Linked DNA regions of Homo sapiens: region 2 is linked to region 1. Evidence: fine-mapped expression QTL. A gene starts in region 1. The other region holds a variant in brackets. All regions are shown on one strand. Distances are from middle to middle.

Region 1 (14,740 bases):
ATGACAAAAATGCCAAAAGCAATAGCAACAAAAGCCAAAATTGACAAATGGGATCTAATTAAACTAAAGAGCTTCTGCTCAGCAAAAGAAACTATCATCAGAGTGAAGAGGCAACCTACAGAATGGGAGAAAATTTTTGCAATCTACTCATCTGACAAAGGGCTAATATCCAGCATTTACAAGGAACTTAAACATATTTGTAAGAGAAAAACAACCCCATCAAAAAGTGGGCAAAGGAGGTGAACAGATACCTCTCAAAAGAAGACATTTATGAGGCCAATAAACATGAAGAAAAGCTCTACGTCACTGATCATCAGAGAAATGCAAATCAAAACCACAATGAGATACCATCTCACGCCAGTCAGAAGGGTGATTACTAAAAAGTCAGGAAACAATAGATGCTAGCGAGGCTGTGGAGAAATAGGAAGGCTTTTACACTTTTGCTGGGAGTGTAAATTAGTTCAACCATTGTGGAAGACAGCATGGCGATTCCTCAAGGATCTAACACCAGAAATACCATTTGACCCAGCAATCCTGTTACTGGATATATACCCAAAGGAATATAAATCATTCTGCTATAAAGACACACGTACAGGTATGTTTACTGCAGCACTGCTTAGAATAGCAAGGACATGGAACCAACCCAAATGCCCATCAATGATGGACTGGATAAAGAAAATGTGATACATATACACCATGGAATACTACGCAGCCATAAAAAGGAATGAGATCCTGTCCTTTGCAGGGACATGGATGAAGCTGGAAGCCATCATCCTCAGCAAACTAACAAAGGAACAGAAAACCAAACATTGCATGTTCTCACTCATAAGTGGCAGGTAGTTGAACACTGAGAACACATGCACACAGAGAGGGGAACAACACACACCAGGGCCTAATAGGGGTGGGAGTGAGGGGAGGGAACTTAAAGGACGGGTCAATAGGTGCAGCAAACCATGGCACACGTATACCTATGTAACAAATCTGCATGTTCTGCATATGCATCCTTTTTTTTTTTTTTTTTTTAAAGAAGAAATAAAGGCCGGGAGCAGTGGCTCATGCCTGTAATCCCAGCACTTTGGGAGGCCAAGGCAGGTGGATCACAAGGTCAAGAGATGGAGACCATCCTGGCCAACACGGTGAAACCCCGTCTCCACTAAAAATACAAAAATTAGCTAATTAGCTGGGCATGGTGGCGCGTGTCTCTAGTCCCAGCTACTCGGGAGGCTGAGGCAGGAGAATCCCTTGAACCTGGGAGGCGCAGGTTGTGGTGAGCCGAGATCGCGCCACTGCACTCCAGCCTGGCGACAGGGCAAGACTCTGTTTCAAAAAAAAGAAAAAAAAAGAAGAAGAAGAAAAAAGAAAACATTACATTAAGTGAAAGAAGTCAGGCACAAAAGACCAGATGTATGATTCTATTTATATAAAATATCCTGAATAGACAAATCTATAGAAGCAAAAAGTAGATTACTAGTCACCTAGGAGTGGGGAGGAAGAGGACTGGGCAAATGCTAATGAGTGTAGGATTTATTTGGGGGATGATGAAAATGTTTGAAAATTGACTAGCATGACCATCAAACCTGTAAATATACTAAAAACTACTGAAGTGTACATTTTAAATGGTGAACTACCTGGCATAATTATATGGTACATAAAATAATATCTTTTTTCTTTTGAGACAGGGTCTCATTCTGTCGGCCAGGCTAGAGTGCAGTGATGCAATCATGGCTCGCCGCATCCTCAACCTCCCAGGCTCAAGTGATCCTCTCGCCACAGCCTCCCAAGTAGCTGGGACCACAGCCATGTGCCGCCACCCCTGGCTAATTTTTATATTTTTTATGGAGACAGGGTTTCACCATATTGCTCAGGCTGATCTCGAATGCCTGGGTTCAAGCAATCCGCCCATCTTGGCCTCCCAAAGTGCTGAGATTACAGGCATGAGCTACTGCACCCAGCTATACATTATATTTTAATAAAGCTTTTTTTTTTTTTTTGGAGACAGAGTCTTGCTGTCGCCCAGGCTGGAGTGCAGTGGCGCGATCTCAGCTCACTGCAAGCTCTGCCTCCTGGGTTCACGGCATTCTTCTGCTTCAGCCTCCCTAGTAGCTGGGACTACAGGCGCCTGCCACCATGCCCGGCTAATTTTTTTGTATTTTTTCTTTAGAGACGGGGTTTCACCATGTTAGCCAGGATGGTCTCGATCTCCTGGCCTCGTGATCCGCCCGCCTCGGCCTCCCAAAGTGCTGGGATTACAGGTGTGAGCTACTGCACCCAGCCAATAAAGCTATTTTAAAAAAATTCATGATTAAAAGATTTTTTTTTACAAGTCTTCTAAGAAGAGAATTTCCTTAACTAGATAAAGGGTATTTATTAAAGACAACAGGAAACATAATGCTCACTGGCAAAACATTCCGAGTTCTCCCTGTGTGATCGGAGGTAAGACAATGAGCTGGAGGGTCCTAGCCAGTCCAGTGAGACGAGAAAAAAAACAAAAGGTAATTGGAGAAAGAAAAATAATATGAAGTGCACAGAAAAATCAAGGAGATTCTATAGAAAAAAAAAATTTTGCAACTAGCAAAACTTTAGCACAGATACTAGTCACAAATTCATTATCCAAAAATCAGGCTGGGCATAGTGGCTCACCTGAGGTCAGGAGTTCGAGAGCAGCCTGGCCAACATGGTGAAACCCCATCTCTACTAAAAATACAAAAATTAGCCAGGTGTGGTGGTGCATGCCTGTAATCCCAGTTACTCGGGAAGCTAAGGTAGGAGAATCACCTGAGCTCAGGAGGAGGAGGTTGCAGTGAGCTGAGATCGCGCCACTGCTCTCCAGCCTGGGTGAGAGAGTGAGATCTCCGTCTAAAAAACAAACAAACAAACAAACAAACAAAAACAAAAATCAACGCATTTCTATATACCAGCAACAAGTAAAAACTAAGACTTTAACAGATACCATTTACAACGGCATGGAAAAATATGAAATAGGTGGTAATATATGAGATGGAAGACCCCTACAGAGATCACAAAGAACATCTAAATAGATAAGCCCACACCCACAAATTATAGGATGCAATATAAAGAGGACAGCACCCCAGAATGAACTGCAAGTTCAGCTCAGCCTTAAAATCCCAGCAGGCAGGCTCTACGTGTTTAAGAAGTAAGTATATAAGATACATGTGGAAGTGTGAAGGGACAAGAATAGCCATAGATGATCCCGGAGAAAGATACAGTGGGAGGGTTTGCTCCGTCCGCTAACAAGGCTTATAAATAAAGTGACAAGAACCGACTTAGTGGGTTATTAGCACATCGATATGTAAATGACCAAAAGAACAGAGCACAGCCCAGAAACACATCCACAGCAGAAGCTGCAGTGCAGATCAATGGAAAAGGACAGTCATTTCAATCAACGTTGGGTGCTGGACTAATTGCACATCCATGTGGAAAATTAGACTCCCTGCTTCACACAATCATCAATTCCACGCAGACTGAAGATTCAAGTGCGAAAGGTAAAACTGTACAGCTACGCCAAGATAACCCAGGGAGTGTTCCGGGCATGTCCCTCGGGGAGACACAATAGGCACCAATGATAGTGGGCGGATGAATACACCATCTATGTTAAAACTAGGAGCTTCTATTCATCCATGATTCCAGGAAAAGGGCTGGGCGCACAGATCACACCTGTAATCCCAACACTATGGGAGGCCAAGGCAGGAGGATCACTTGAGGCTAGGAGTTCAAGACCAGCCTGGGCAATACAGTAAGACCCCCATCTCCATACACATGCACAAAAATTAGCCAGGCGTGGTGGCAGCGCATCAGTCCCAGCTACTACAGAGGTTTAGGAGGGAGGACTGCTTAAGCCCAGGAGTTCAAGGTTAAAGTGAGCTATGATTATACCACTAGACTCTAGCCTGGGTGACAGAGTGAGACGCTGTCTCAAAAAAAAAAAAAAAAAAAAAAAAAAGGATTCCAGGAAGCTAAGTCAAAGTCAAAGGACAACTGGGAGATATTTGTAACTGAAAAAGGACTGATATCTAGCATTTATAATAAATAATAAAAAAGACACTCTTACAAAACAATGGGAAAAAAGAGAATTTAAAAGCAGATTTGAATATACAATTCTCAAAGCAGAAAACCAAACAGCAGGCCGAGTGCCATGGCTCACACCTGTAATCCCAGCCCTTCAGGAGGCTGAGGCAAGCAGATTGCTTGAGGTCAGGAGTTCAAGACCAGCCTGGGCAGCATGGTGAAACCCTGTAGTCCCAGCTACTCAGGAGGCTGAGATGGGAAGATCTGAGGTGAGGAGGTCAAGGCTGCAGTGAGTCACGATGGTGCCACTGCACTCCAGCCTGGTTGACAGCGCCAGACCCTGTCTCAAACAAAACACAAACACAAAAACAAAACACTCTGAAAAATAATTTGGCATGATCCTATGATCCTCACAATTCCACTCCTAGATGTTATACCCTAGAGAAATCCAAGATTCCAAACACCTGAACATATGACCGTAATGTAGTAACGGGATGATTTACAAGAGCACAAAAGCTAAGCGTGTCACTGTGGCAGAATGGATAAAGTGCCTCGTGCTCACAGACAGGAATACCACGCAGCAGTGAAAATTAAACTGCAGTCAGCTGCAACGTGGATGAAACTGTCACGGCGTCGACCAAAAAGACACATGCACGCCACACACAAAATACACTATGATACCATCACACTAACTCCAAATCCGGCAACCAAGCTGTGCCATTTAGGGGTGCATAAATAATTGCTCACACCGGGGAGATGGCACAGAAATGATTACCTTTCCAAAATGAGGAAGGGGAAAGGAAGAAGGCCGTGATTACCAGTGGGAGGCTTCCAAGGAACAGGCATGGTTCTACTTCTCCACCTGTGTAAGGATCACAGGAGTGGCTCGCGATGCTATTATTATTCGTTAAACTGAACAAAAATGCACTTTTCCATACATGTCATATCTCAATCAAAAGCAATTACAACCTATAATAGCTAATAATACATCAGTAGCCAGGAACGTTTAAACAACCATGGGGCTTCAATAGTCTGCAAAACTACTCGGTTTATTTCGCACGGAAAGCGATACAATATAAAGTTTAGGAAAAAAGAAAACAAACCTCACACACCCACTTATTGGAATGACGCAAAACGGCGTGTAGAAAAGAGTAAAACGGACACAGAGCGCTCCGGACGGCCGGGGTCTTTGCGAGGTGAGAACAAGAAAATCCAGTCAGCGGACACTGGAGCTACCGAGCCCAGGCCGCCCCTTCCTCACGCGGGGGTTTCTCTCGGGATCCCCGCCCTCGCCCAGGTCACCAGGGCTGCGTCCCCGACGGGAAACCCCGATGGGAGACCCCGCTGGGGCCGGCGCACCCCCGCTCCAAGAGTCGGTCGCTTCGGCACGGTGGGGGATTAGGGTGGTGAGGACCGAAGGCGGGGGAGGCGGGGGCGGGTGGGGATGAGTACCCGGGGGCCCAGGGAGGGGAGTGAGGACCTGGGGGTCGTAGCGAGAACCCGGGGCCCGGCGGGGAGGAGATTGAGGATCCCAGGGGAGGTGAAAACTTGGGTAGGGGTGAGGACGAAAAGTAGGGAGGTGAGGACCCTAGTGGGGGATTCCCAGGGGGCGAGGAGGGGCGGGGGGTCCTGAAGACCCACGGTGGGGATGAGAACCGAGGTGGGAGATGAGGATCGAGGCGGGGGATGAGGACCCAGGGGGAGGTGAGGACTGGAGGGAGGTATTCGGAGGAGCGAGGAGGGGGCGTGAGGGCGGGCCGGGGGGGTTAACAGTCTGAAGGGGGATGGGAAGGTTGGGGGAGGGAGCGAGGAGGGTCCGGAGTTGGGTGTGCGGGTCGGAGGTGGGAAGGTTGGGAATCTGGGGGCCGCGGGGCGCCACGCCTGCCTTACCTCGTCCACCGTGCGGCGCGGGAGGTGCAGCGTCCCGAGTAGCAACTTGAGCTTCACTGCCGACGAGAGGCCATGGAAGCAGAGACGGATGTTGTCGATGACCGCGGCCGTGAGCAGGGACGCGATGCTGGGCGGCGCCCACAGCTCGTCCGTGGCCCCCAGCTTGTTGTGCAGCCACAGGCCCGTGTCGCTCTCCCGCATGGACGCCATCTTGGGGGAAAGCGCGCGCCGCTGCCCCGGCATCTTATGAAGACACCTACGCGTCCCTCGCTAGGACCCCAACATGGCGGCGCCCGTCGGGCTGCGGGCCGCAGAGGCGGCGCAGGTGGCGCGGTCCCACGAGCGGGGCTTCCCGGGAGAGCGCTTCTGGGTGGCGACCGCGTCTCCGGGTAGCGGCCGCGTCTTCGGGAAGCTTTGTGGCAAAGCCGAGAGCCGGAAGGACGGGGTGCCGCTGAGCAAGGACTATCGGCTTCCGTAAAACATCATGGCGGCGCCCTCTGCTGGCTCTCGGGAAGACCGCAAAAAATGACGTCACGAGCAGGCGCGCGTATTCGCGTCTTGGGAGCCCGGGCTGCGGCCTGGCATTCGCAGTGCAGGTGTCAAGCGCCGCAGACTTGCTGCTCGCGCGGTGGGGCGGAGGCTCCCTGTGGCACCTGCCCCGCTGTCCGCTCTTCGCTTTTTCCCCGCTTGGGTCTCGGCGCGGACCGTGTGGACGCCCCGCCCCCGCGGGCCCAGCACCTGCACGGAGAGGAGCCGCGGCCCTGCGGAGCGAGCCTGCGGGATCCCGGTCGCAGCGCTGAGCTTCCGTCCCCCGCTGAGCCCGCTCTGCCCGTGGCGCGCCGCCGACGGGGCTGCGCTGAGCATGCGGGTCGGAGGGCGCTCGGGAGCTGTCCAGGGGCACTCGTGACCCCACAGTGCAGGGAGGCCCCGGCCCCCAGTCGGGCTGGAGCCGCCAGGCAGGAGCCAGTAGTGAACTTTTCAGTTTTAAAAGCTTGTCATTAGATACAAACATGAGTAAAAGTTAAACTTCATTTTATTAAATTCGTTTTACCCTTTTGTCTTTTTGACGAGGCCTTCCTATGTTGGCCAGGCTGGTCTCAAACTCCTGGGCTCAAGCGATCCGCCCGCCCGCCTCTGCCTCCCAGAGTGCTGGGGTTACAGGTCGGGGCCGCCTTGCTTGGCTTCTGTATTATATCTTTTTTTTAAAAGATCTTTTCCTTATTGTTCCACTGCCATGCTCCTGCCGCCGTTCACAGCTATTGCCACTGGGCGGTGGGAACGCCGGGAGAACAGGGCTCAGCCCAGCTGCTAGCAGTGCCCTGGCCCTGGCGGCTTGAACTTGGCAGTCCTGCGGAAGTCACACGGGGGAAACCCGCAAATGCTACAAATCAGTGCTGGAGCGGTGGTTTTGTTGATTGCTTAAACTGAAGAAAGTGATAGAGAAAATGTTGATGATAAAGATTAAACTTAAAACTGTCATGTCGACAACCGTTACATTGCAAATAGCACATAAAATTTAAGAGAATATTTTTTAAATGATTCAAAAGTGTCGAATTCAGCAAAGACAAGTTATTGACTAATGGGTGAAGTTGTGACATCAGTGGGGCTAGTGCTGAAAGAAGTTTAATGATTAGGCCGGTCACGGTGGCTCACGCCTGTAATCCCAGCACTTTGGGAGGCCAAGGCGGGCGGATCACCTGAGGTCGGGAGTTCGAGACCAGCCTGGCCAGCATGGAGAAACCTCGTCTCTACTAAAAATACAAAACTAGCCGGGCTTGGTGGCGCATGGCTTGCCTGTAAGCCCAGCTACTCGGGAGGCTGAGGCAGGAGAATGGCTTGAACCCGGGAGGCGGAGTCTGCGGTGAGCCGAGATTTTGCCATTGCACTCCAGCCTGGGCCACAAGAGCAAAACTCCCTCTCAAAAAAAAAAAAAAAAGTTTAATAATTATAATCTGAGGGTAAGAAATAGTTTAACAGTGGACGACATATCAAATTTAGTATGAGAAGAGTGAAAGTTACTTCAAGTTGTGAAATCATGATTGAACCGTAAACATTAGTTGGTTGAAATGAAAATTTTTGTTCACAGAAACCTGTGTGCAAACGTTTATAGCAGCTTTATTTATAATAGCCCCAAACTTGAAACAATCCGAATGATTCTGACCCCCAACTGTCTGTAGCTTTCTGTAGGATACGCAGCACTTTTCTGTATACAGTGCTTGATGCATCTTGAGTCTTCAGTTTTATGCAGGAAAAATCCAAGTTAACATCTGGCTTAACCAAGAAGACAAACCACTAGGAGGACTTAGTTACAGCATCAGAAAGCAATGGATTAATATTCAGAATGAAAAAAGGAATGCTTGTAAATCGACGAGAAAAAGACCGACAATAGACAAATGTGCAGAAGATAAGAATAGGCAATTCACAGCCTGGCCATCATAGTGAAACCCCGTTTCTACTAAAAATACGAAAACAGTGGGGCGTGGTGGTTCATGCCTGTCATCCCAGCTACTCAGGAGGCTGAGGCAGGAGAATCGCTTGAACCCAGGAGGCAGAGGTTGGAGGGAGCGGAAATCACACCACTGAACTCAGGCGTGGGCCACAGAGCGAGACTCTGTCTCAAAAAAAAAAAAAAAAAAAAAAGCAATTCGTAGGAGAAACCCAAATACCGGAGAAGCACATGGAGAGATGCTTAAATTCATCAGCAACCTGACAAACCCAAATTAAAATAACAAGATGCCTCATTACACCTATCAGATTGCAAAATTAGAAAGCCAAAGTTTTTTTCATTTTAAAACATGGTATCCAGTTGTTCCCATATTATTTGTCGAAATGACGATCCTTTCTGGACTTTTCTATCCTGACTTACTCATCTATCTTTATGCCAATACCAGACTGTCTTGGTTACTATAGCTTTCTAAAATAAGTGTTGAAATCAGGTAGTGTTAATTCTCTGACTTTTTTTTTTTTAAAGTTATTTGGGTTATTTTAGGTCCTCTGTATTTCCTTTTTTTTTTTTTTTTTTTTTTTTTTTTTTGAGGCAAGGTCTGGCTCTGTTGCCCAAGCTGGAGTGCAGTGATGCAATCTCAGCTTGCTTCAGCCTCTACCTCCTGCGTTCAAGTAATTCTCATGGCTCAGCCTTGCAAGTAGCTGGGAATACAGGCATGCACCACCAAACCTGGCTAATTTTTGTATTTTCAGTAGAGACGGGGTTTCACCCTGTTGGCCAGGCTGGTCTAGAACTCCTGACCGCAAGTGATCCACCCACCTCAGCCTTCCAAAGTGCTGGGATTACAGGTGAGCCACAGTGCCCAGCCTGCATTTCCATATAAATTTTAGAATCGTTTGTCAATTTCTACAAAAAAAAAAAAAGGCTTCTGGCATTTTGAGTGGAATTGTGTTGAATCTGTAGGTCAGTTGAGGGAGAACTGGTAACTTCTGTCTAGTGAACATAGTATTTCTCTCTGTTTATTTGGGTCTTTAAATTCTCTCAGCTAGGCTCATGGCTATGTAATCCCAGCACTTTGGGAGGCCGAGGAGGGTGGATTGCTTGAGCCCAGGAGTTGGAAACCAGCCTCAGTAACGTGGCGAAACCCCATCTCTACAACAAATATAAAAAGCTGGGCTGGTGGTGCGCCTGTAGTCCCAGCTACTTAGGAGGTTGAGGTGGGAGGATCACTTGAGCTCAGGAGTTCAAGACCAGCCTGAGCCACATGGTGGGACTCTGTCTCTAAAAAATTAAAAATAAATTAAAAAATAAATTTTCTCAGCCCCATTTTGTAGTGTTCAATGTAAGGGTCTTGCACATCTTTTCAGAATTGCCTCCAAGTATTGCATAACCTTGATGTGGTTGTAAAGGGTGTTGTTTAAAATTTTTAATTTATCAGTGTTTGTCGCCAGTATATAGAAATACAACAGATTTTTGTGTGTTGATTTTGTATCCTGCAGCCTGGCTAAACGCATTTATTTGTTCCAGTAGTTTTTTCATACATTGTATTAGTTTTCTGCAAAGACAATCATGCCATTTGTGAAGGCAGTTTTATCTTTTTTTCTAATTTATTTGCCTGACTCTGCAACATAAAGAGTCCTTATTTTGGCTGGGCATGGTGGCTCACATCTATAATCCCAGCACTTTGAGAGGCTGAGGCAGGCGGGTCACCTGAGGTCAGGAGTTCGAGACCAGCCTGGCCAACATGGTGAAACCCCATCTCTACTAAAAATACAAAAAATTAGCTGGGCGTGGTGGCAGGCGCTTGTAATTCCAGCTACCCAGGAGGCTGAGGCAGGAGAATCGCTTGAAACCAGGAGGCGGAGGTTGTAGTTAGCGGAGATCGTGCCATTGCACTCCAGCCTGGGCAACAAGAGGGAAACTCCATCTCAAAATCGAGACCAGCCTGGCCAACATGGTAAAACCCCGTCTCTACTAAAAATACAAAAATTAGCTGGACGTGGTGGCAGGCGCCTGTAATCCCAGCTACTTGGGAGGCTGAGGCAGGGGAATTGCTTGAACCCGGGAGGCGAAGGTTGCAGTGAGTTGAGATCGTGCCATTGCACTCCAGCCTGGGCGACCAAAGGGAAAAAAAAAGTCCTTATTTTTACTTTAAAGCAATAAATTTTACAACTTTACTGAATTTCTAAAAAAAAACCCTAGTGGTATTTTGATTGGCTTTCCATTGGGTTTGTAGATTAATTTAGAGAGAACTGACATCTTTATATAGTATATGATACACAGACAAGCTTTCATTTTTCTTTCTTTATGATCTTCAGTAGACGTTACTATTTTTCTCCATACAGTTTTTTTTTTTTTTAAGAGAGGGTCTTACTCTGTTGCCCAGGCTGGAATGCAGTGGTGCGATCTCAGCTCACTGCAGCCTCCGCCTCCCAAGCTCAAGCGATTCTCATGCCTCAGCCTTTCAAGTAGCTGGGACTACAGGCATATGCTACCATGCCCAGCTAATTTTTGTGTTTTTCTCTTTTTTGATATAGAGTCTCGCTCTGTTGGTGAGGCTGGGGTGCAGTGGCGCGATCTCGGCTCGCTGCAACCTCCGCCTCCCGGGGTCAAGCAATTCTCCTGCCTCTCACCTTCCCTAGTAGCCTCCGCCTCCCGGGTTCAAGTGATTCTCATCGCTCAGCCTCCTGAGTAGCTGGGATTACAGGCATGCAACACCAAGCCTGGCTAATTTTTGTATTTTCGGTAGAGACGGGATTTCACCATGTTGGCCAGGCTGGTCTCGAACTCCTGATCTCAGATCCGCCCACCTCGGCCTCCCAAACTGTTGGGATCCAGGTGTGAGCCACCACACCCAGCCTATTTTTGTGGTTTGTTTGTTTGTTTAGTAGAGATGGGGTTTTGCCATGTTGGCCAGGCTGGTCTCCAACTCCTGGCCTTGAGTGATCTCCCCGCCTTGGCCTCCCAAAGTGCTGAGATTATAGGAATGAGCCACCACGCCTGGCCAGTTCTTTCTTACTTATTTTTTTTAGAGATAGCGTCTCACTCTTGCCTAGGCTGGAGTGCAGCCGTACAATCTTGGCTCACTGCAGCCTCATAGCTGAGACTACAGGCGCGTGCCACCATGCCCAGCTAGCTTTTGAAATTTTTGTAGAGATGAAGTCTCACTATGTAGAGATGACGTCTCAAACTCTTGGCCTCAAGCAATCCTCCCACCTTGGCCTGCCAAAGAGCTGGGATAACAGGTGTGCACCACCGCGCCAGGCCTCATACAGTTCCTAATCATTTTCATTAGCTTAACTCAGATGCCTTAGTGTATTTCATGCTCTTATGAATGATATCCTGTATTCTATTTTCCAGTTGGTTATTATGAATACGAGAAATACTATTTTTTAAGTTGGACATACATCCAACAACCTTTATGGACTCCTATATTTATTCTAATAGTGGGTTGATTTAGTTGGTTATTCTGAATATTTCATTTACAGACAATGACAGTTCTGTGTCTTCCATGTATATTTATACTTTTCCTTTATTATTTTTTTGGTATTGGCCAAAGATTCCAGTCCTGTTGAACATTAGCAGGGCAGTAAGAATCCTGTTGTCTTGCTTTCAGTCGTAAAGGTATATGTCCAATTTTTTTTTCACAAGGCAGGGTCTTGCTATATTGCCCAGGCTAGTCTCAAACTCTTGGGCTCAAGGGATCCTCCTGCCTCTGCCTCCCGCCTCTGCCTCCCAAAGTGCTGAGCCTCCACACCTGGCCCATGTCTAAATTTTATCCATGAAATAATCTAAGTTATTAGTGGATCACCTTTGTCCACTTAAGGAAGTTTTCTTGTTTCCTTTATGTTCCAGAGTTTTCATCCTAACAGTGTTTCTCTTTAAGAAAAATGAGCTTTTCCGCATCTGTTGAGAAAATCTCACGCTGCCCTTCCTTTAGGCTATGAATGTGGTGCCCAAGGTCATGATAGGATCTCTGATGTTCAACCGTCCCTGTGCTCCTCAGAGGAGCCTTACTTGTCAAGATGAATTATCTTTCAGGGCCAGGGCCCGGGCAAGGGGAGAGAGCTGAGGGAGGCTTAACAGGGGTCAGAACACTCAGCCATCACAACAAATGGTATTTGAATGCAATATTTTAAAAACTCAAAATCAATGCCAGAAAAAATCAATGATAAACAACATACTGAAATTTTAAACAAAGACAGATAGTAACAGTGCCATGTCAAGCCATATTGGAGCTGAGGCAAGAAAACCAATCAGTGATACTGATGCTGTCTTCATTTAAAATTTTATATTTTGTTCACCATAGTTTTTTTGCATGAGTTTTGACTCTTTAAGGTAGTGTATTAAAATATTTACCTTTTAAAATATTTTTTCTTTTAAATTATTTTCCTTTTATAGGAGCTACTAATTGAAAAATATTTATCTTAATAACTATTTTGGAACCTCCTGAATATTTTGCCCAAAGCAAGTGCTTCACATACGTCACCCTAATCACAACCCTGTTTCTCTTAATTCGCTGTGAATTTCTTTAAAATTTGCACCTCTGATTATGAGTGAATTGTCCTATAATTTTATTTGTATATATTCATTTTTATCTAGATTGGGAATTATGGCTTTCTAGCCTTTTATTTATTTATTTGAGACGGAGTCTTGCTCTGTCGCCCAGGCTGGAGTGCAGTGGCACGATCTCCGCTCACTGCAAGCTCCACCTCCTGGGTTCACGCCATTCTCCTGCCTCAGTGTCCTGAGTAGCTGGGACTACAGGAACCCGCCACGACGCCCGGCTAATTTTTTTTTTTTTTTTTAAGTAGAGACGGGGTTTCACCGTGTTAGCCAGGATGGTCTTGATCTCCTGACCTTGTGATCCGCCTGCCTCAGCCTCCCAAAGTGCTGGGATTACAGGTGTGAGCCACCGTGCCCAGCCTAGCCTTTTAAATAAGTTGGCAAGACTTTTCATCTATTCTCAGCAGCTGTGTAAAGGCAGGAGTGACCTCTCCCCTGTTGACTTTGTGTCTGCCTCTGGGCTTTCTGTAGAGTAGGTTTAGAGGCCTTTCAAATCTCAGTGCGGCCCTGCCTGCAAGCTGCTAGAGGCTACCTTTGCCTGCATGATCTATCAGAGACTTCTCTGGCTCTTTCCGTTTTAGGACTCCCTCCTGACTTCCTGGAAATTGTGTGGGTCCAGGCTCTGTTTTCTGGTTTGTAAATCCAGAAAGACAGTCAGTTTTCTGTTAGGGTTATCTGCTTGCACCATGCCGGGGCTCCCTAGCTGTCCTCAGGCTTAAGCTTTGAAAATGGCCTTAAAACTCACCAGGATCAGTCAGCTGTGGTGGCTCATGCCTGTGATCCCAACACTTTGGAAGGCCGAGGCAGGTGGATCACCTGAGGTCAGGAGTTCAAAACCAGCCTGGCCAACATGGCAAAACCCCATCTCTACTAAAAATACAAAAATTAGCCGGGCACAGTGGTGGGCACCTGTAATCCCAGCTACTCAGGAGGCTGAGGCAGGAGCATTGCTTGAATCCGGGAGGCAGAGGTCGCAGTGAGCTGAGATCACACCATTGCACTCCAGCCTGGGCAACAGAGCAAGACTTTGTCTCAAACAAACAAACAAATTCACCAGGCTGGTCCTTTCCTCCAAGTTTTTACTTCCCTCCAAAATCCGCTTGCTTTGGTTTATGCTCCAAAGCCTTTAATCAGTGGGAGGGTTGGCCTGTTAGCTATCCCGCCATACTTTTCACTGTTACATGAGTCCATTAAGTGATATGTTTGCTTATTTTTATTCTTATTTTTTTGAGACGGATTCTCACTCTGTCGCCCAGGCTGGAGTGCAGTAGTGTGATCTTGGCTCACTGCAAGCTCCGCCTCCCGGGTTCTGGCCGTTCTCCTGCCTCAGCCTCCTGAGTATCTGGGACTACAAGTCGCCCGCCACCACGCCCGGCTAATTTTTTGTATTTTTATTAGAGATGGGGTTTCACCGTGTTAGCCAGCATGGTCTCGATCTCCTCACCTCGTGATCCGCCCGCCTCAGCCTCCCAAAGTGCTGGGATTACAGGTGTGAGCCACCATGCCCGGCCATGTTTGCTTATTTTTTAAGGTGCCCTAGATCAAATTAAAGAAGTTCCCTTCTATTCCTAATTTGCTACAGGTTTTTAAAAATCATGACCAACATTTAATTTTATCAAATGTTCTTATAAAATGTTTTGTTGTGCATACTGAGATGATTGTATGATTTTTTCACCTTTATTTTGTAAATGTGATGAATTACATTGATTGCCTTTCAAATTACATAAACCTTACTTTCCTAGAATAAGCCCAACTTGGACTATGTTATTCTTTTTTACACGTTGCTAGATTTCGCTTGTTAGTATTTTATCT
Region 2 (14,740 bases), 24 kb before region 1:
GGTCGCTAGAAACTCGTCTTCGCGTTGCCCCCTTTCTGGCTCTCAGCGCCGTCGCCACTCGGGAGAGGCTGGGTGAGGCCCGTGTGAGGACTGACCCTGGATTCCTCGAAACTGCCATTGTGATCATTACTCTGCTCTTTGGAAATGGCTGTATCATTTTTTTGTACTAATGTGAATTGTTCCTCAGAAACGCTTCTTTTCCATCCTAGTGAGAAGCTGGCCCTGCAGGTGGTGGCAGCAATGGTGTTGTAAGATTTCCTCCCGTAGTTTTTTCTCCTCATGGATTTGAATGAAATGCCAATAACACGTCCACTTTCAACGTGTAGTTTACGCGGAGCACTTTCGAGGCCTGGCCGGGTTGGGCCTACTTCTCACCTGGGCCTATCTTCTGAACTCGCTAGGTTCTTATCAACATTTGGGGGATAACTTTGTATATTTTTTTCATTTGGCTTTTCTTTACCAGTTTCTGATTTTTATTCTCAATATATTTTTGCTAAACCTATTTCACAAATCACCACCGACTGAAGTGTGTGTTTACTGATGCGGCCCTGAGCTCCATGGCGAAAGGAGTGACTTTGCAGGGCGTGAGACCGCAGTCTGCTTAGAGCACAGGAAGTGACAACTTAGGGAGCCCCGTAGGGCGCTGCAGGCCCCGGGGACCCCAGCACGTGGGTCTAAAGAGAGACGGAGTCTAGCTCTCCTGCCACCCAGAGTGGCTTCCATCTCAGCACTCTGTGGGTCTGGTGATGGAAGATGCAGTCTCTGCTGATCACATGTGCCCTCTGCCAGGGCACCTACTGAGAGGTGCGGTCCTGGGGGTGGAGGCCTGCCTGGCAGGTGTGCGTGCCTCGTACGTGTGTTATGGGCACTGGTCTAGGCCAGGTATGACACCCACTCTCCTGTGAGATTTCACTTTAGTTTTTAAAAGGTCCAGTTCTACAGAGTGAGACCTATCTATCTGAGTACTACATATGTTTTAAGACTTGGTTCTTTTTTTGAGGGATCCTTGACCCTGGGAAGTCTGGAGCACCCTGAGAAGGGGGCACCATGTGTGCCTTTGCCCACGTGTCCTGAGGGGCTGCTTGTCTGGGAGGGAGGGAGAGAACATTCAGCAGCAGGTGCTTTTTTATGGCCTTTTCTTAAAATAACCTAAGGGGGACACATCCATCTTGCAGAGAAGTTTACAGAACTCCCCTTGAAAACTGCTGCTGAGGCTCCTGTTAAATTTTCTGTGGCATCTTTTATGCCTTGGTAAAAACTGCAGTGTCTTTGGACCTGAGAGTGGCTACTCCGTGGTTTTGTGACCTGTAAGCGTGGGGTTCAGGGGTGTGTGGCCCTGCAGGGTCCCACGCCTCCCTGAGCACTGACTGGAAGTTTCACTGGCTGGTGGCTGTCCCTTCTCCCATCAGGGTCCCCAGCAAAGTTAACTACACAGAGGACCCAGGGGAAACGAGCTGTGTAGCCACTGACTTGCTCGCGCGGCCGTGGCCTCTGAGGGGCACTCGCCGGTTAAGACAGGGTGGGAGTAGTGCTTTCCAGTTCAGACTCTAACTTCTCCCAAAGTGTCCTAAGAAAATACTGGATCGGCTCATAGATTTATGCTCCTTATGATGCCCTAACTTGGAAGGTTGTTCTAGGGACAGGCCGGGCAGTGTCCCCACACACACCTTAGAGTCGAAGGCCCCAGGGCCCCGCTGTCACTTGCCCAAAAGATCCCTTCCGGCAGGTAAGGGACTACCAATGCTTACGTCAAAACAGCAGAATCGGCTTTGCAGTGCACTTTGGGGAGCAGATATTAACTTATTTTTGTGTTGGACAGTAGTGAAATCTTGTGATTTTTAATCGCTTTGATAATACTTCCAAATTTTATGATTTTTCTGAAGGAAATAATGCAAACATTTTAAATATGTTTCTCCCCCTTTCCAAAAACTGTTAAACTAATGAGCAAGTAACACTAACTTTGAATGTCTCTACAATACCCGTTGATAACTCAGTGGAGCCAGGCTTTGGGGTAGCGGCCCTGAGCTTGCAGGGTTTCTCGCCACTGGGGCTGACCACGCCCCCAGCTGTGACCGTGGGTGTGGCTGGCTCTCGGCCCTGCCCAGCTTTGTTCTGAGGACGTGGTGACTTCCTGAACATCAGCTTCAATCCTCCATCATTAATGTGAAGCAAAACACAAAAACCGCCCCAATCCCTCAGGATTCCTTGGCATCCGAAACCAGCATCTGCACCTAAACCCATACCCACCCGTGTGCGCCCACAGGGGGATGTGTCCGAATGGGCAGCTTAAAATGTGGTCACCTGTGGGGGAAACTCTTCAGGCACCTGAAGTGAGAACCCAGCTGTCCGTCCTCAGGCCGGCCTTTCTTCCGGCGACACCCGTCCATGGCTGGCTGGGTCCCCTTCGCAGTGTTTGTCTGTCTTGACATCTAAACCCCGGCGTGTGCAGTGCCCATCTTCCAGGACTACCTTATTTTCCAGAATTAAACCTGTTTTATAATTCAAGTTAATGCAAATGACTGTCAGTTGCCAAATATCTTGATCCTATGAGTGTAGTTGATGACTGTTTGTTAGTCAGTAGAGTAAAATGCTGTGTCCACGGGGTGTCACAGCCTCACCATACCCTGTTGAGGTGTGAAATGCCCCGTCAGAAATTAAATACAAACTTAAATGTGCCTATTGGTGTCTAAACTTCATACAATGTAAGGTCAGATTCCTTTTAGGAATACTGGGTGCTGTCACCAGGTTTGATAGTTAGACTTAAAAACTTGAAATTCACTTTTTGGGGGGAGGGATATACTGAAATAGAGAGTTGAGACTTGCCAGTTGGGGGAAAATAGCATTTAAAATGGAAAGCTGTGTTTGGAAAATTGTGTATGAGTATTTTTGTATTAAAAACATTTTAAAGGCTTTTTTCTTAACTTATTTTATATGGGATTGTTTGATTTTTTTTCCAGTTACTTTGAATTGCAAAGCATCGGGTGTGGCACTGATGCCTCCGATGGGTGGGGCTCCCTGTCCTGACTGTGTCATTTTGCCTTTGACCTGACCCGCTGGGGAGAGGCAGTGCCACCTTGGGAAGTATAACAACAAATACTGGAAATAGCAGGCATAACTGACTGACTTTGGAAAAATGCTTTCTTCTTCTTTCAGAAATAATTTGCTTCCCAAATTCCCATTAAGGGTGAAATGGTCTAGAGAGAAGGAAGCACTGCTGTCCCCCAGCCCTGCAGTCGGCTGAGCCGGGTGGTCCCCAGGCCCACAGCCAAGTAAGTCAAGGGAGTACCCCGAGGGCTGATCCTACCTGTTCCCCACCCTGTGGGCCAGGGTGTCCTAGGAAGCCCCCAGCCCTGGCCCACCCCGTCCTGATGGCCGCCTAGGGAGGGACTGGGTCCCCGGAGCAGGGAGGACAAGCTGGCCCCAAACACAGCTATGGTGGCTTTCTTTAGAAAAGCTCGACTTTAATGGTTCAGATAGTTTTACAATGAAAATAGGTACCCAAAGACTGTCTTAAATGTCCACAACTATACAAAAGATGAATACAAAACTCCCAGGCAGGCACAGGCAGGGGACAAGGCCCACCGTCTCCCACGCTCTGGTGTGGTCGGGTGTCCCTGCCGCACCCCCAGTACCACCGTGCCACCTTGGTCCCCTCAACCCTGGGGGTAGGAGGGCACTGCCCCAGCGAGGGAAAATAGAAAAGATTTTAAAAAGTAAGAGTCTAACAGGCAGAGCTGTCACTAAAATTAGGAAGTTGTAACTTTTTTGGTTAATTTACTTACTACATTCAAAAATGTAACGTTGAGTCCAAAAAGTGTCTTAAATCACACAAAAAAGAACCCATATTAAAATTTTAAAAATAAGCCCCAAATACCCCAGAGAAATGCATCCAGAACTTAAAACAGGCTGGGTCAGCAGCAGGGCGGCGGCCGGGGGACCTCGGGGGCCAGGTGTCCGCCATCCGGTTACTTTAAGCTGGCAAAGCCATCGTCCCGTGGACCCCCACAAGTGACGGCCAGCTGTGAGGCAGGTGGTTCTAGGACACATTGGTCATGGGCTTGTACTTCTTGAAGCGCGTCCACTGGCCCGTGGCATAGTTCATCTCAAACACTGTGTCCACCAGCATGGTTGTGCTACCCTGGCCGTCCGCCTTGGGCAGGTCCTCCGTGTGCTCGCTCAGCTTGATCTGGATCACGTCCCCCTGCTCCTGGCACGGGTTCTCTGCAGAGAGCAGGAGCTGCTGGGTGGGTGTCTGGGGGCACCCGCCCCCAACCCGGCCCGGTGCACCCCCAGGCCCTGCCTTATGAACATACCTCGGGAGCCGGCCATGAAGCCCAGGATGAGGGCCTTCTCGGGCCGCGTGACTTTGTTGGCCGTCTTGAACATCTCCTGGGCAGCGAACATCTGCTCTCTCTACAGCGGGGAGAGGGGTGTGGGTGCCAGGGCCCCGCCAGGACCACCTCCTGCATCCCCCTGCAGGCACCGTGGCACCCCCACGCTAGGGGAGGTGGCCAGGGCCGTACCACCTACCTGGTGGCCTGTGGGCCCTACCAGTGTACACCTACCGTGAGGGACAGGTTCTTCTTAGGCTGCTGCTGAGCAGGGGCCTGGGTCTGCGGGGCCACCATGGCAACCGGGGGTGTCTGAGTGGTAGGGGCGACAGCCGGAGGTGTGGTGGGTGTCAGAGGCGAGGTGGGCGCCGCAGGCGTGGGTGTGGCAGGGCTCAGGCCGCTGTTGTACATGGGCGCCCGCTGCTTGAACTGCGCTGGCAACGTGGGGCTCGGGGCGCTGGGCTCCTCTGGTGGGCGGCTGGCTTCCCGGGAAGATGGGGCTGCAAGTAGACCGGGGCCTGGTGAGGGGGCTGGACCCCCACCCTGTTCCCAAACCCTAGTGCTCCTGGAGGTGACAGGCTCAGCTCCCCTTCTCTGTCCTGCTACCCTCTGACAAGAACTCCCTGTGGCCCCCAGCCAAGGCACAGGCCCCAGAAGCCCCAGCCAGAGGAACAAGGCCAGTGGTCTCAGGCCTTTCCAGACTCGCAGATAAGATGTCTGGACTCTGGCCAGCTGCTGGCCTGCAGCAGGTCCCCATACCGTAGGCACTGCTGGGAAGACAGGAAGGCTGTATCCTCAAGCCCCTTGGGCCCAGGACCTGGCCTGAGGTGCTGTGAGCCTGGCAGTGCCCTCCGTCTGGGAGGGGATGGCTCTCAGCTCCCCTCCCGCCTACCCAGCAACAAGAGCTGGGTCACCTGGCAGAAAACCCTTTCGAACCCAATCCCCTTCCTGCCGTGTCCCCTGGGGCCGCTGCCTGTCTGTGCCCAGGACGGGCAGGGTGGGGCAAAGCAGCTGGTTTATGTCTTGGAGCTCAAGCTGAACAGCGGGGCATCTGCCCCCAGCAGATTCTGGCTGAGGCAGAAGGGGGACAACAGAGATGCAGGAGTGAGAACCGCAGCCCTGGCAGCGCCCGTGGGCAAGGTCATGTCCTGGCAGGCAGCTTGGCTGGTTCCAGGCTGGGGCCAGCAGACTCACCTGGGGGCGTCTCGGAGCTGGGGATGTAGGAGGAGGCGGGAACCACGCTGGGCGTGGAGGGAAGGTAGCTCGTGGAGGGCAGCGCAGGCTCATTGTTCAGGGACCCAAGTTTCTGGAACACAGAGTTTAAGGTTCCTTCCAGAAGAGGCCATGCTTCCGGCATGTGCTAACACATGGCCCGACCCGGAGCTCCACTGCCACAGGCTGTGGCCCCCCGAGCTAGAGCAGGAAGGCGGGGGCCACTCTCCCGAGCTCCCTGGGCTAGACAACGGGACCCCTGGCCCCTGGCGCCCCAGCAGAGTTGGGGACTGAGCCGCTCCTGTGTAGGAGAGGGGAGGGGTTGAGGAGCCCAAACAGCCCATCTTGAGCACAGAAGGAGCGATGCTTTTTCTTACCACGAAGC[G/A]TTGATATAAAGGAAGATGCTCATGTTAAGAAACACAGAACACGCAGCGGCGGGAAGAAAGGAGCTTATTATCCTGAAGTGACCCCACAGTGTGGCCTCCTCCAGGCCCTGGCCTCAGACGACCCACTGCAGCCTCTGTGCACCTGCCGCGCCCCGTGGCTGCCTCCCACCCGCAGGCAGGGCCTGGTCTCCGGGACACTGAGGCCTCTGACCACCCAGCACCCCCACAGGCCTGTCCTGCACCCATTCACGGCCACGTGCAAGGCTTAGGTCCCACCAGCCCTGCCTGACGGGACACTGAGGCACAGGGTTGAGGAGGACTCCCCTGGCAGCCCCTCCAGCAAGCGTGGGGCAGGTTCCCGCTCCAAGCCTGAGTCAGATGCCCATGTCAGGGCACGGCCCACACTGCCTCTCATGTACATATACGTATATATACATAAATACAGACTGCACACATATGTACATACATATATATATTCTCCGACAGAGCACACTAGTGGCCACAATCGGAACAAAAGGGGCACCCGCAGTGGTGCCAGACATGGGGTGCAGCCCCGAGCCCTACCTGCGTGGACACCAGGCCGGCTGCGTAGTCCGGGGTGGCGTTCTCCACCACCGTTTCCTCCTTGGCCGGCTTCTCCACCACCTCCGCATCTGTGGACAAAACAGGAGTCCTCGCCAGTGCCCGGGCGCGTCTGCAGTGTCAGCTCAGGGCAGCGGCAGGGAATCAAACAGCTTCCCAGGGGAGGCCACCAAGGAGCGAGGAGAAAAGCAGGCACCCACCCACGGAGAGCAGCCTCACGGGGCACAGCCCTGCCCGCCGAGCGTGGGCACAACCCACCCCAACTGGGCAGGGCCCGCAGGGACCCCCATTGCCGCCGACACGCAGGCCCCAACCCCCACCGAGAGTCTTCCTTCTCCGCTTCGCCTCTCGGCCAGCGCCAACCATATCCAGCTCAGAGATGTCCAGCAGCTGCCAAGACAAGCACAGCCCTGCCTTAGTGACGGCACCAGGGCGCAACGGGCCCCGGGGTGCCACAGGAGCTGGGGGACGGGCCTACCTTCACACCTCGTTCCTTCCGCAGCAGCGTCCTGGAAGGCGGGATGGGGGTCCGGTTCCCTGTGGGGCTGAAGACGCTGGGCGCCGTGGGGCTTCTGAAGGGCGCCTGCTTCGGGATGCCTTTGAGTGGGGCTGGAGGACGGCAACAGTCAGGGCGCCAGCAGCAGTGACCGGCAAACGTCCCCCACCCCGAGCTCAGAACGTCCCACCCTCTTCTAGGCTAGCGCCGCAGAGGGGAAGGGCCAAACCCCTGGCGGGCAGCGGGCAGGACCCCCAGGATCCCGGACCTCAAGGAGCAGGGGAACGCCTGGAGCCACGACCTCACACTTTGCCAAGACACCAAACAAAGACAGCGGCACCCCAGCCCAGCCACAGGATCTCACCAGGTGGAGTCTCTCACCAGTGTGGCGGGGGCTGAGCTCTGCCTCCTTCCTGTGCCTCCACCGGCAGGGGCATGAAGCCAGGCGCCTGGGCTTGAGGGCCGCCCTCCCAAGCCTTCTCCCCGTCCCCTGAGGACACTCCTGAGGCCTACCTACGCTGTTACCCACCAGCGCCCACACGCACCCTCCAAGGCGTGCGTGGCTCTCATGGTGCCAGGCCCGGAGAGAGGACGCCCGGGGGATGGTGCCATCAGCACACCGGGCCAGGCTGGACACACTGCTCAACGGCTGGCCCACCCTCCCTGGGCCAGCAGGTGCAGCCCTGGCCCTGGGATGCCTGGTGGGGGTGGAAAGACAAGGGTCTGCTCCAGGCGGGGTAGAGGAGAGCAAGGTGGAACCTCGGCTGCGGTGGGCAGGAACATGACCCAGGGACGGCCCCCCACACAGCGACAATAGTCAGCAGACCCAAGATGCCTTCTACTAGGTCCCATGTGAACACTGTGGGATTATGGGAGCCCAAATAAACTAAGCCAGGCTGGTCTGGGAGCTGCATGGAGAGCGCCTGTAAGGCTGCCCTTTCAGCCCCACCCATCTGCAAGTTTACCCAGCTGTCTCAGCACAGGACGACACCCGTCCTGCCCTCTGGCCCCCAGGTCACTATCCAGCACCCTCTGGGGTGAGTATGCCCTGCCATGGTTCCCAGGGGCACGCCGTCTTCCTGTGATCAGGGTGCATCCTGCTTAAGCTCACGCCCAGCCCTGAGAGCACAAATCAGGAAGGGCAGATGGAGGGGTGCGGGGGGCACAGCCCCACGGGCAGCTGAGCACGGTCACGTCCTCCCCGCGGAGCCGCCCAGGGACACTCGGAACCCAAGAGCAGCACTTGGGGCCGAAAGCCCGAGCTGGGAAGGCCGAGAGCCACCGGTGCCAACAGCAGAGGAGCAGGGGCCAGCACTGTCCTCAGATCCCGGCCTTCCTGTCTCCATGCCCAGCGGTGTCCTCAGATCCCGGCCTTCCTGTCTCCGTGCCCAGCACTGTCCTCAGATCCCGGCCCTCCTGTCTCCGTGCCCACACATCCTCCCAGGGAGCTCCCCAAGGGGAGAAGCCGGTGAAATTGCCCCAGTGCCTTCGCTTTCCCACGGGCTCCCAACACTGCTGCCTGAAGACCATTCACAGGCACCACCTCCCCAACAGGGAGCGGGTCTCCAGGTGAAGCCCTTAGCTCTGCCCCAAAAGCAAGGCTCACGGCACCAGGGTGGGGGCCTTACTGGTGGTGTCCATCTTCCGCAGCAGCCCCCGGCCCTTGGCGTGGAAGGGCACCCCGGCGCTCCGCTTCAACTGCTGGGCGGTCTCCGTGGCTGGAAGGAAGAGGTCACATATGTCAGGGATCCTCAGAGCGAGAGCCCTTGGCCCTTGTAAAAACATCTCTGTCAAGTGGATTCATCCGACGGCCTGAGCCGTGAACGCTGCATTCTCTCTAAATGAGCAGCTGTTCCGAGCCGGGCCTGACACCAGCTCGCACTTTACAACGAGTCAGAAACTCACTCAGGTGAGCAAGTTTCGGGAGCTGGGTGGCTGTGGCTGCACCTCCCAGGACCCCATGGCAGGGGGGAGGCAGCCGAGGAGGAGCTGAGGGACCTCATGAGCCCTCTCCATCGACCCGGGCCTCCCCCTGGCCCAGTGGTAGCACCGTCCTCGCTGAGGGTCAGCAGGCACGGTCTAGATACAAAAATATGAGGAAGAAACAAACGAAGAGATATTCCTGACTTGGTTCAGTGTGGCTGAAGGGTCAGGGGACACCGAGTGCCCAAAGCAGACCCTGTGGCCACTGCTGGCCTCCAAAGGGGGTGGGGCCCAAGGGGCCAGCAGAGTCCTTCCTGGGCTACCCAGTGGGCCCGGGGCTGCACGGAGCCTCCCGGACAGCGCTGGGCCCTGGCTGCTGCCCGTTCCAGCCAAGATCCATGCACAGCTGCTGTCAGCCTTTTATTTGGATTCTCTGGAAACGGGGTATTGATGTACATTATAAATATTAATTCCATAACCATTCAAAATAAAACGATGTTATTGAAATCTTTGTCGTGCTTTGGGAAAACGTTAACTGAAATGATTAAATATCTTTCAAGTGGAATTGAGATCACCCGCCACTCCAGAAGGCAGCAACGTGAGAGTAAGGAACGTGCCCCTCCAGCCATTCACCCTGGCACCCACCGTGCCCAACAGCGTGACTCAGCTGGCACAGAGTTCATTTGGTCACAGAGATTAGAGATGCCTTCACCTAAAATTCTGAAGTTGGTGGGTTTTTTTTTTTTTTTTGAGATGTTGTTTCGCTCTTGTTGCCCAGGCTGGAGTGCAGTGGGGCAATCTTGGCTCACTGCAACCTCCGCCTCCCAGGTTCAAGTGATTCTCTTGCCTCAGCCTCCCAAGCAACTGGGATTACAGGCATGCACCACCACAGCCAGCTAATTTTTGTATTTTTAGTAGAGACGGGGTTTCACCATGTGGGCCAGGCTGGTCTCGATCTCCTGACCTCAGGTGATCTGCTGGCCTCAGCCTCCCAAAGTGCTGGGTTTACAGGTGTGAGCCACCATGCCCAGCCTAAATTCTGAAGTTTTTAAAGCATGTTTTCAGAACATAAAGTTTAATATAGTGATAAACTTCTAACAAAAAACTTTATGCAGAACTTTATCTTCTTTTTCTTGAGACAGGGTCTCACTCTCTCCCAGGCTGGAGTGTAGTGGTGTGATCACAGCTCACTGCAGCCTCAACCTCGTGGGCTCAGGTGATCCTCCTACCTCAGCCTTCCGAGTAGCTGGGAGCACAGGCACGCACCACCATGCCCGGCTAATGTTTTGGTACTTTTGGTAGAGATGGGGTTTCTTGGCTGGTCTCAAACTCCTGGGCTCAAACGACCCACCTGCCCCAGCCTCCCAACAGGTGTGAGCCACCATGCCTGGCCCAGAACGCCACCTTGAAGGGGCAGTCTTGGTACCTTAGAACCTAAGAAACCTATGACTGGAAACTACAAAGACAATGCCCGATGGCGGCCGCGGCCACTCACACTTCTGCAGCAGCTCCGCCCGCAGCGTGGCGCTCTTGGGTTTCCGCTTTAACTGAAAATGCTTCACCGGGGGAGTGAGGGGTCCCGCGAGGGTCGTCAGGGCGTTTTTGTTCAAGTACTGGCACTCCAGTGGCAGCATGGCAGACGCTTCACACTCACCCACTGCCGGTAAGAACCACATGAAGTTAGGGGCGCCCAGGCCGCAGACCTCCCGGCTGAGAGGAGCTGGCGGCTGCCCAGCCCCACACCCTCCTCAGTTAGGGTTAGGTCATGGGAGCTTCGGCTGTCCCCTGAGGTCCTCGAGACTGACTCCCCACGGCTCCAGCAGAACACCCAGGAGCATTTGCAGAACAGGAATGCCTGAGAGGCGGGCATGCCTTGAGAGGGCTGTAAACTGGAAACCTCTGGCACCGCGGACACCAAGAACCACAGGCGGACATAGATACAGTGATTCCTGGAGGGCTCCAGACACTTGTAGAACATGAAATGTTAACAGATCCCACCCCCACGTAAGAAGGACCCCCGATCTGTGGCTTCTCTCTTCCCGTCCCCGAGGGTAGCCAGGCTGGTGGTCTCTCCTGGAACCCTGGCCCTCATCCAAACTGCCCACATCCATTTCCTCAGCCTGTGTGCTCACCCACGGTTCAGATCCCAGAAACTGCCCCACGAGGGACAGGCGACCTCCCACCTGAACTGGCTACGTGCCCCACCTGGAGAAAAAGCACAGGCAGGCACATGAGAGTTCACCGGCCTCAGCCTTCCTGCCCGCGGGACACTCCTGAGACACGAACGGGTGGGGTGGGGTGGACCTGTCCAGACCACTGCTCCAGAGGCATCTGTGTGGTGTGTGTGACCTCACAGGTGGGGAGAGGTGCCACTTGCAGGGGGGTGGCCAGCAGGGCCCCTGCAGGAGTGTGCAGCCTCGATGTCTCCATCCCACAACCCTGTCTCTCTGGGTGCTGCCCTTGAAGGAGCTGGGGCACAACGTTTGGGCTCTGAGGAGCCAGTTCCAATTGTCCAAAGCAGGAGAGAAACTCAGAAAAGCACAAGCATCAAGCATCCCATCAAGACATGTTCTTCAAATCCATCTACAAATAGTTGTTTCTTTTAAGAGATACATTCTCACCCTGTTACCCAGGCTGGAGTGCAGTGGCGCGATCATGGCTCACTGCAGCCTTGGCCTCCCAGGCTCAAGTGATCCTCCTGACTCAGCCTCCCAAGTACCTGGGAGGACAGGCATGTGCCATCACGCCCACCTAATTTTTATTTTTTGTACAAATGGGTTCTTGCTATGTTTCCCAGGCTGGTCTCGAACTCCTGGGCTCAAGCAATCTGGCCATCTCAGCCTCCCAAAGTGCTGGGGTTACAGGAGTGAGCCACGGAGCCCAGCCTTGTGAATATTTTCTAAGTGACTTTCAGTTCACATTTAAACAACTAAATCGTTGATATTTTCAACATGCATTTCTGAGCATGTACTCTGGGCCAGGGAATGCTCTGGGCCCTAGAACCTAGGATCTACAGATACCACCTGAATGGGCAGAGCCCCTACCCTCACGGAGCCGACCAGAGAGAGACGGCGAGTGGCGTGACACAGCCTCCCACTGACACCGCAGCAGTGAGGATGGGGCCTGTGGGCTGTTTGGAGTTTGTTTTCAAAGATGGCAAAAGCCAGGCAGCAGCTTACGGGGGAGGATGGTGCATATACAGTTAATATTCTAGGGACCAGGACACACGGAAAAACGTAAAGGTCTAAAAATCAAATTCATTTCAGAAAAAAATTTTTCAAGAAAGATCCATTTCCCTCCACCCAACATGAATTAAAGCAGCACAACATACCCTTTTCTCTAAGTTCTCCCAAAATATCCTGAACGTTGGGATTCTGCTCCTCCAGCTCCAGGTTAAGCGAGCCTGTGTCCGGAAAGGACTTCAAGATGTCGGCGACCATGAGCACCCAGGGGTCCGAGTCGAGGCTGGCGAGCTGGATGATCTCCATTAGGGCGCCCTTCATCTGCAAAATAGGATGCTGCCGGCGCCACCATGCCCCTGCCCACTTCCAAGCCCACTCCCTGCTGAGCTTCCGGATGGGCACTGGGCAGTGGCCGGGCTCTCTGGCAGTTGCCCCCAACACTTCCTCCTGAGGGCTCCCCTTCCTCTGAGCCCCCCGCCTCACCCCAGGGCCACCTTGCTTCCCTGAGCAGCACAGCCTCTGCCAGGTTGCAAGGCCCCGGCATCCGGTGCCCTCCCAGCAGCCTCCCACCTCCCAGCAGCACCCAGTCCACTGGGCCTACTCTTCCACCGGTGCGCAGATGCAAGAAAACCTGAAGGGTGAGAAGCCGGGGCCACCACTGCTCCCGCAGAAAGCCTGCGGGTGGGAAATCCTGGGGATGAGGGGCGTAGAGCAGGCAGGTGCCCGGCACAGCAGAGCGCAGGAGCAGGGTGGAGTCACCTGCCGCGGGGGTGTGTGCCTGGGCAGCAGGGGGTGGGGCCTGGGACCTGGGGCAGCACCCGTGACAGCTGAGCTGGTGCCTAGTCACCATCTAGGCAGGGACGGCTGCCTCTGGGTCTGGACGGCGCTGGGAGTTGGCGCTCGTGGAGCCTGGAGGTGGCCCCGGGATCTGGAGTGAGGCCAGGGCCTTGGGGAGGCCATGGGCGACGTGCGTGGAGGAAGCAGGCGCACCCCGTGCTCCCTCAATACCTGGGAGGCCAGATCCATCCACACCAGGGCCTGCTTCGGCCACATAAACCCCCTCCCACGAGGAAACGCAGAGAGCCAGGCCATGGCGTGCCTGTGCCTCTGCCATGCGCCCACTGGGCTGCTCACAGTGTGAGACAGCTGGGCTGGCTGGCGCTGGGGGTGAACAACAGCGCCCTGCCCTGTCCAGACGCCGGGGCTGAAACCCCAGCCCCAGGCCTTCCTGACACCCACTCCCTGCGTCAGGCGCCAGAGACCCGTCCTACGAGGGCTGCGGCCATCACGTCCCCGCGAGCGCCGCCTCCTGGTGGCCTCTGAGTGGGAGGACCTTCCAGCGCTTCCCTCACTGTCCTCATGGGCTTCCTGCCCTGAGGGAAGTTGGCTCGAAGGGCAGAGATCAGAGGTCGTGCCAGGGGAGCCTGCCTGCTGCCAAGCCCCTCTGCATCTGCCCTGCAGGACACCCAGCTGCCCTCAGGAGTCAAGAACCCCCCGCGTGGCCCAGCCCCTTCTGTTCCTTGGGCAACCAGGGAGGGTGTCGCCCCGGCCGCTGACCCTGCGCCCCGGGCCCTCACTCCCGACGCCCGCCCGAGCTGAGTGCGCGATGCGGCAGAAGATGCTACGTGGCTGCAGGAAGCGCTGCGCACACGCTGCCTCTGGCAGCCGCACAGCCCGGCTGTTTCCAGCCAGTGCGGCCTCTCCACAGCAGCCCCAGGGAAACCCTACGCCTGCCAAGAGGCAAGCGCGCGGCATTTTATAAAAATGGTAAGGATAAAAAAAGTCGGGGATGTTAATTTAAAACAAAAAGGACCACTGTTGTGGAGTCAATGTTTTCTCTCCAGAACGCGCATGTTGAAGCCTGGCTCGCTCTACTGGGGCTTCTTGTAGGAAAACGCTTGGCTTTCCCGGGCGCGGTAGCTCATGTCTGTAGACCCCGCACTTCGGCCGGCAGAGGCGGGCGGCTCACGAGGTCAGGAGTTGGGGACCAGACTGACCCACATGGGGAAACCCTGTCTCTACTAAAAATACAAAATTAGCCGGGCGTGGTAGCGCATTCCTGTAATCCCAGCTACTTGGGAGGCTGAGGCAGGGGAATCGCTTGAACCCAGGAGGCGGAGGTTGCGTGAGCTGAGATCGCACCATTGCACTCCAACCTGGGCAACAAGAGCGAAACTCCATCTCAAAAAAAAAAAAGAAAGAAAGAAAGAAAAAGAAAAGAAAGAAAGAAAAAAGAAAATGCTTGGCTTACACACAACAGAAATTTACTTCTCACGGTTCTGGAGGTGGGAATCCAAGATCAATTAAGGCGCTGGTGGATTCCCCGCCTGGTGGGGGCCCCTTCCAGCTTCATGGAAGGTGCCTTTTGCTGGTGGAAGGTGGGAACGAGCTCCCCTGGGCCTTTTTTTTTTTTTTTTTTTGAGACAGAGTCTCGCTGTTGTCGTCGCCCGGGCTGGAGTGCAATGGCAGGATCTCGGCTCACTGCAACCTCCGCCTTCCCAGGTCCAGCGATTCTCCTGCCTCATGCTCCCACAGTGCTGGGAATCCAGGCGCCACCACCACGCCCGGCCCAGGCCTACCTTGTAAGGTCTGTAATTCTTAGAGAGCAGGGGCCCTAACTCATTTCTG

Which allele goes with the higher level. Positions count from the first base shown, and alleles are read on the strand shown. Sizes are in standard deviations (SD) of each study's normalised expression.
For the expression in cerebellum of the gene that starts at base 6,141 in region 1, G is the high allele of the variant in region 2 and A is the other (small effect, 0.21 SD a copy in GTEx).

The links. PIP is the estimated chance that this variant, and not a neighbour inherited with it, causes the effect.
Region 2: its variant is fine-mapped to the expression of NELFA in cerebellum (GTEx, PIP above 0.99).

Annotation. Positions count from the first base shown.
Region 1 is chr4:2,002,834-2,017,573 of GRCh38, forward strand. It overlaps NELFA (negative elongation factor complex member A), which reads right to left and starts at 6,141. Exons shown (of 11, transcript NM_005663.5): 1 at 5,917-6,141. The coding sequence starts at 6,126. LOC124900839 reads right to left here. Exons shown (of 4, transcript XM_047416543.1): 4 at 6,173-7,340. The coding sequence starts at 6,928. The coding sequence ends at 6,173. RefSeq lists enhancers at 5,824-6,324, 5,932-6,451 and a silencer at 6,512-6,891.
Region 2 is chr4:1,979,283-1,994,022 of GRCh38, forward strand. NSD2 (nuclear receptor binding SET domain protein 2) reads left to right here. Exons shown (of 22, transcript NM_001042424.3): 22 at 1-2,910. NELFA (negative elongation factor complex member A) reads right to left here. Exons shown (of 11, transcript NM_005663.5): 2 at 12,262-12,433; 3 at 10,426-10,587; 4 at 8,636-8,725; 5 at 6,990-7,120; 6 at 6,832-6,901; 7 at 6,494-6,582; 8 at 5,526-5,637; 9 at 4,566-4,831; 10 at 4,314-4,413; 11 at 3,441-4,221. The coding sequence ends at 4,037. It overlaps MIR943 (microRNA 943), which reads right to left and starts at 7,195; the gene lies at 7,102-7,195. RefSeq lists an enhancer at 12,526-13,365. The variant G/A (reference allele first, on the strand shown) is at 5,929.